2 separate regions of the Homo sapiens genome follow, and region 2 is linked to region 1. Evidence: fine-mapped QTL for protein levels in blood plasma. Region 1 holds a variant in brackets. A gene starts in the other region. All regions are shown on their forward strands.

What was found. A credible set is the group of variants that fine-mapping cannot tell apart. PIP is the posterior inclusion probability: the model's chance that the variant is causal. The UK Biobank Pharma Proteomics Project read protein levels with antibody pairs (Olink). The fine-mapping took linkage between variants from a reference panel, not from the people measured, so its PIPs are less certain.
Region 2: ADAMTS13 starts here. The variant in region 1 is the best candidate, but not a certain one, in a credible set for the plasma level of the ADAMTS13 protein (UK Biobank, PIP 0.58).

What each region holds. Positions count from the first base shown.
Region 1 is chr4:174,154,166-174,157,126 of GRCh38, forward strand. The region is part of intron 1 of LINC02268 (long intergenic non-protein coding RNA 2268); the gene reads right to left. Among named protein-coding and RNA genes, the nearest start is that of LINC02268, 65 kb to the right of the region's middle. The variant TA/T (reference allele first, on the strand shown) is at 1,326.
Region 2 is chr9:133,421,279-133,424,086 of GRCh38, forward strand. ADAMTS13 (ADAM metallopeptidase with thrombospondin type 1 motif 13) reads left to right here and starts at 1,089. Exons shown (of 29, transcript NM_139027.6): 1 at 1,089-1,270; 2 at 1,823-1,889. The coding sequence starts at 1,166. RefSeq lists enhancers at 244-383, 614-663, 784-843.

The DNA of each region.
Region 1 (2,961 bases):
CGAAACTGAATTTTTATTTGTTTATTAAAAGCCTGACACATGGATTTTGATATTTTTTATGTCCCTACCCTGTGCTAATGTGATAAATATAATTTCCTTTTTCAAACTACTCATATCTTAAATGCTCTTTTACTACATGTTTGGCCTCAAATTCCTTTTTGAATAAGGTGGAGTACTATAAACAAACAATATTTAATGGCTGTTTTGCTGAATAAAAATATAACAGTTAACAGCTTTCTTCATTAACATGCTCGCCCAGGAGCTGGTTTAACTTTCCATAGCAAGACGTGGTCATCAAAATTCCTATTCCATATTTCCAAATGCTTTTTCTGTCATATTATTTACTGGAATTTAGATTATTATAAGCATACGTTCTATGAGGAAATTTTTTAAACTGATAACACCATAAAAACTACATCACCTGGGAGACTGAAGCTCTGGTTTAGATGAGAAAATTCTTTTCAGATCCACAGTTTCGATTTGCAGCAGGGATGACTCAGCCTCCGATAGCACACTGTGTATCCAATGCCTAGTGATTCAGCTTGGGACAGTTGGGATTATAGAAGAAGGAACAGATTTTCTTATAAAAACAAGTGGTTTTTTTCCTTCTTCATGCCTTACAATCTGTTCAAGAAACAAATATCATTCTTATCTTACCCTTAAGACAAAATTTTTGTCAGCCACAAAAAATCAAGTAAATATTAACCTTAGAATATCTGGAGTACAGTTCATCTAGAGAAAATGATAGATTCATTCTGGACAAGTAGGAAATAAAAGAATAGTAATACATATTTTCTATTGTGTACTTCCAGAGATAAAGTTGATTGATTTTTTTCCCAATTTTTTATTTTGAAAGATGTGAAGAATTATATAATGAACACCAACATATCTTAGGGTCATCCTTTTTTTAACAACTTGCTTCATTTGCTTTTTTCTTTCTTCATCTCTATGTATATTTTTTGTGCTTATTCACTTGAAAGTTAGTTGCAGTCAACATAACATTTTAGCCCCAAATACTTTAGCATATATCACCTTAAGAACAAGAATATTCTCCTATAAAACCATAATATAACATACCCAAGAAACATATTATCTAGTAGACAGTTGTTCCTCAATGCTTTATTGTTTCTGATCCAGGATCCAATAAAAAATTACACAGTGAATTTGGTTGTCTCTTTCGACTCCTTTAATCTGGAATGAGTTTTTAATTTGATACAGTGAAAATGCTTATTTTCAAAATTACTCAGTCTCTAGAGTATCATCAATTAATACTGTCAGCAAATAATCAGGAAGACAATCTTAGAAACCTGGCCAGATACCAAACT[TA/T]AAAAAAAAATCTATAATCATTTCACTGGAAAAAAAATTCCTTCCCAATTCAACCCATGTAAACCTCGGCCAGGTAAAGAACAAGAGAAGCAAACTTGAAAGTAACCAGGGGCTTAAACCATACAAACCCCATACATCAAGTTCAGCAGTTTGAATTGAATTGGTGGTCAGCCTACTTTGTGTAGTACAACAAGGTAAATGTGCTGGCAATACAGTAGAGCCAGCCGACAAAATAAATGTTCATTTTGACTGATACTTCACTATTCAAATACTCTGCCCTTCTTTCCCCCTGAAACCCTCAATGCCATTTTATATAAAAATTTAAACATATTCTGACAGTGGTTTTATGGATAATACTAATGAATACTATCATATTAAATTTCTGTTCGTTCTCTGAATACTTCTCTTCCTCCCAGTTTACATTATTTTGGGAAAAGCACATCTTTAATCTTTATTGGCAATAAGCTCGCCTCTTGTTATTCACTTTAGGAGAAAATCCTTATTAGAAATGCAGTGCTAAAAAGGTACCTAAGTCATCAATATTATGGTATTTCATGAATTGAATTTGATGTATCATACACAGATGCTTGCATTAAAGCATACAACTTATTTTGGTTCAATAAAATGTTAATACATTGTTTAGCATTTATAAACAAACGTACCATCTTCAGTGCTAAATACGCAAATGACAAATGTAACAAACATGATGAACTTATTTTCCAAATCCTGCATCATAGGCACATGAAATACTTTGGTTCACCTGAAACATAATCTTTCATCATAAGAAAGGGAATATTATGATGAGAGAGGAGTGATAGAAATGTGGCTGTTTTCCTGTTTTTGATTTTTATGTGAAACTTAAAAGTCAATAAGAGAGAGTGGATTTCAAATGCAAGGTAATGGACAAAGGCAGCAAAGGGGGGTTTCTATTGCCACCTAGTGTCTAACTTTATAAGGGACTTATTTTTGAACATGACAGCAGTCACACAATGTGAAACAGACTCTGAAACGGGAAAGGTAATTACGGCACTTTCCAGCCAAAGAATTTCAGTCTTTTTTTCTTATGGTCAACCTCCTGTCACTGTATAACTGGTCTATATATATAAAAATACCAAAAATTTCACATATTAAAGAGTGATATTTATGAAGATGGTGATTTGTGTATATATCATGATATATACATGTACATTTGAAATTAATTCCATTATTATTTTGGATCAGTATAACTATTTAGAAAGTATAATTCCTGATGAAACAAGAAATAGTTATCTGTCACACTTACTCCATTGATATTTACTTAAAATATTACTACGAAATTTTTTCACTTTTTTTTTTACTTTATGTAAAGCAATCTATTTAGTTTGGCTAACACATTTTATGTCCTCAAGGCTTTTGCCACCTTATAATTAGACTCTAATTTTAGAAATTGAATTGGTTATTGTGTCACTGTATAAACTACTTAATCTCCCTCCCCGCAAAAATGTCCAGCAGTTCACTGAAATAAGAAATCAATGGAGCAGATTTAACTAGCTTCAACTGTGCAATGAAAATATGCTAGTGAAAAGTTACTGGAGATATGCCCCAACATAACTGTAATCTAATGATCCAAATCAATACATATTTGAATAGTCAGTT
Region 2 (2,808 bases), not on the chromosome of region 1:
AAACCAAAAAGAGACAGGAGAGTCATTCATGCTGATGGAGTGAGCCAGGTACCAGGATCTCGATATCTAAGCATGCCCCCTTCTCCAACAGCCTCCTTACCTTCCTGCATGAAAGCACACCCTTCCCTCCAGTCCCCCATTCCTTTATTCTGCTGTATTTTTCTCCATAACACTTACCACCTTTGAACATACTACATATACAACATGTGTCTGTCTAGCAACTTTGCTGTCTGGCTCTCTTCCCTAGAATTTAAGCTGTGAGAGGCCGAGGCTGCTGTCTGCCTGGCTTGGGGCTGCTTTCCTGGTGTCTAGCACAGAGCCTGGCCTGTTTCAGGGGCTCAGTGAAACATTTGTTGGCTGAAGGAATGAATGAATGGCTCTAGCAGAGGGGCAGAAACTAACGATGCAGGAGGAGAGAGCTGGGAAGGGATCCAGAGCCAGGGCCTGGCAGGAAGTGTAGGTGTGTCCTCCCTGATCGCAGAGGAGGAGAGAGGCTGCACTTTGAGGGGTGGAAAGACAAGGTGAATCCCCCTGCTGGTCATCAGCTTGTGCGGCTCTGTGGGTGTAAAAGAGTGGTTTGGAGCATGTGAAGTGAGTCTTCCAGGAGATGAAGGGGATTGCCAGGCCGTTTGTGATGATGCTGAGATCTGGTGCCGTGCAGCCTGCTTCTGCGACTCTCCTCATCAGGCGCAGGCACAGAGTAGGTGGAGAGTTGAGCCAGAACCACGATGTCTTTGGCACAGCCTCTCATCTGTCAGATGGGAGCGGGGACCCCGGAGAGGGAGTCAGCCGAGGTCCTGGCATTCCTTGTGAACCCCCGTCTGTGGGTTTCTGGTCCAGTGTCCCTTCTCCAGATTAGATGGCTTAGGCCTCCTCTAAGGGGGTGGGCGTGCACATCCGGAGAGCTGTCTGGTGTGCAGGACTGGGCTGCAGGTTACCCTGAACTGCAACCATCTTAGAGCAAGGCCCAGCTTGCAGCAGGAGGAGCTGCAGGCCGCCCACCCTAGCCACGGCCCCTGCCCTGGCAGGAAGCTTCCAAGAGTAAACACTGCCTAATCGTCCCGCCCAGTAGTGAGCAGGCCTGTCCCATTCCATACTGACCAGATTCCCAGTCACCAAGGCCCCCTCTCACTCCGCTCCACTCCTCGGGCTGGCTCTCCTGAGGATGCACCAGCGTCACCCCCGGGCAAGATGCCCTCCCCTCTGTGTGGCCGGAATCCTTGCCTGTGGCTTTCTCCTGGGCTGCTGGGGACCCTCCCATTTCCAGCAGGTGGGCTCATTTGCAGGAGCGGGGGTATTCTGGGAGCCTCTGGGTGGGGTATTCTGAGCTACCTGGGGCGAGGGGAGTGCCAAATAGCTGACTACATCAGCTTTGGGGTTTGCGCTGGGCAGGGGAGTCTGTACTTGGGGCTTTGGGGGATGAAGTGTGCTCACTGAAGAGGGAGTTGGTGTCTCAGTACGACCTGCTCATTCGGTGAAGCTGAACAGACAGATACTAGTTTGTCCCAAACTGTGTAGGTTGCTCTTCTCTGCCTCTCCCTTCCTCTCCCTGTCTCTGATTTCCCCCTCTCCTTCTTGGTTGGCCTCACCCACCTCCTGCCTCCTGTCTCCCTCTTCATCCATCTCTTTTTGTTCTTTTTTCTTTCTCTCTCTCTCTTTTTTTTTTTTTTTTTTTTTTTAAGACATGGGGTCTTGTTATGTTGCCCCAGCTGGTCTCAAACTCCTGGACTCAAGTGATCCTCCCACCTCGGTCTCCCCAAGTGTTAGGATTACAGGCCAGAGCCACTATGCCCGGCCCCATCCATCTCTTTTTGTCTTGCAGAGTTGTCTTCAGGCTTTGGAGCCACAGGCCGTGTCTTCTTACTTGAGCCCTGGTGCTCCCTTAAAAGGTACTTGTCCTGGTGTCTTCTCTCCCGGGGGGAGTTTCTCAGGACTTTCAAGGGGTATCTCACCACTGAGTCAGTGGTCTGGGATTTTTGGTGGATCTGGAAGGAGAAGGTCAGAGAAGCTGCTGTCAACCCTGTTAATTAACTCTGTTACTTCCTGCCAAGTTGATATAAGCTGGTCTGGGTGTTCCAGCCAGGCCAGGGTTCTCACCCTAGCTTCTGTTAAATATCACAAGGGAACGGTCACCGATTGGCTGGCCCCTCCTGCCCCATGGCCTCTGCTGAGCTGGCTGATTTTCAGGAGCTCTTGTGGTTTCTGACCGTGGATGTAAATATTTATTCCTTCTGTGGGAAACAAGATAGGTACTGGCTCAGGCTACCTCCTAAGGCCATGGATTTCCTTATGATAAAGGCCTGTCCCCATTGCCCACAGGCCCATGTCTGTGACCTTCTCCGGTGCGAGCCCCCTTCCCAGTAGGGCCATTGGCAACTTGACTAATGGCTGATGGGGGCCAGAGGCAGGTGGGCTAGTGGTCAGGGGCAACAGGAGGGCAAGGCCCACTTTGTGACCTGGTTCTTTGTGGTCTAGGCCAGAGGCACACTGACCAGTGCCTGGGGCCACGCTGGGGGCTGGATGCAGCCGACGCTGTCTGGGTATCCCATAGCCTGGGTCCTTCCAGCGCTGCCGCTCCTGAAAGGCTGGGAGATCATTGCCCAGGGTCCCTGACCCTCTAAGGGCTCCCTTGGGAGAGGACAGTGAGGGCTGGCCTGGGCCCCTGCTTCCCAAGAGACCACTGGGCTCCACTCGTGTTCAGTTTCCTGTCGGGGTCCATGATGTTACTTGTGAAACACCTGTGCCCAGAGCAGGGTCCAGGAGGCAGGGCAGGGGCTTTCCCCTTTGGGCAGAGCCACCAGGGCAGTG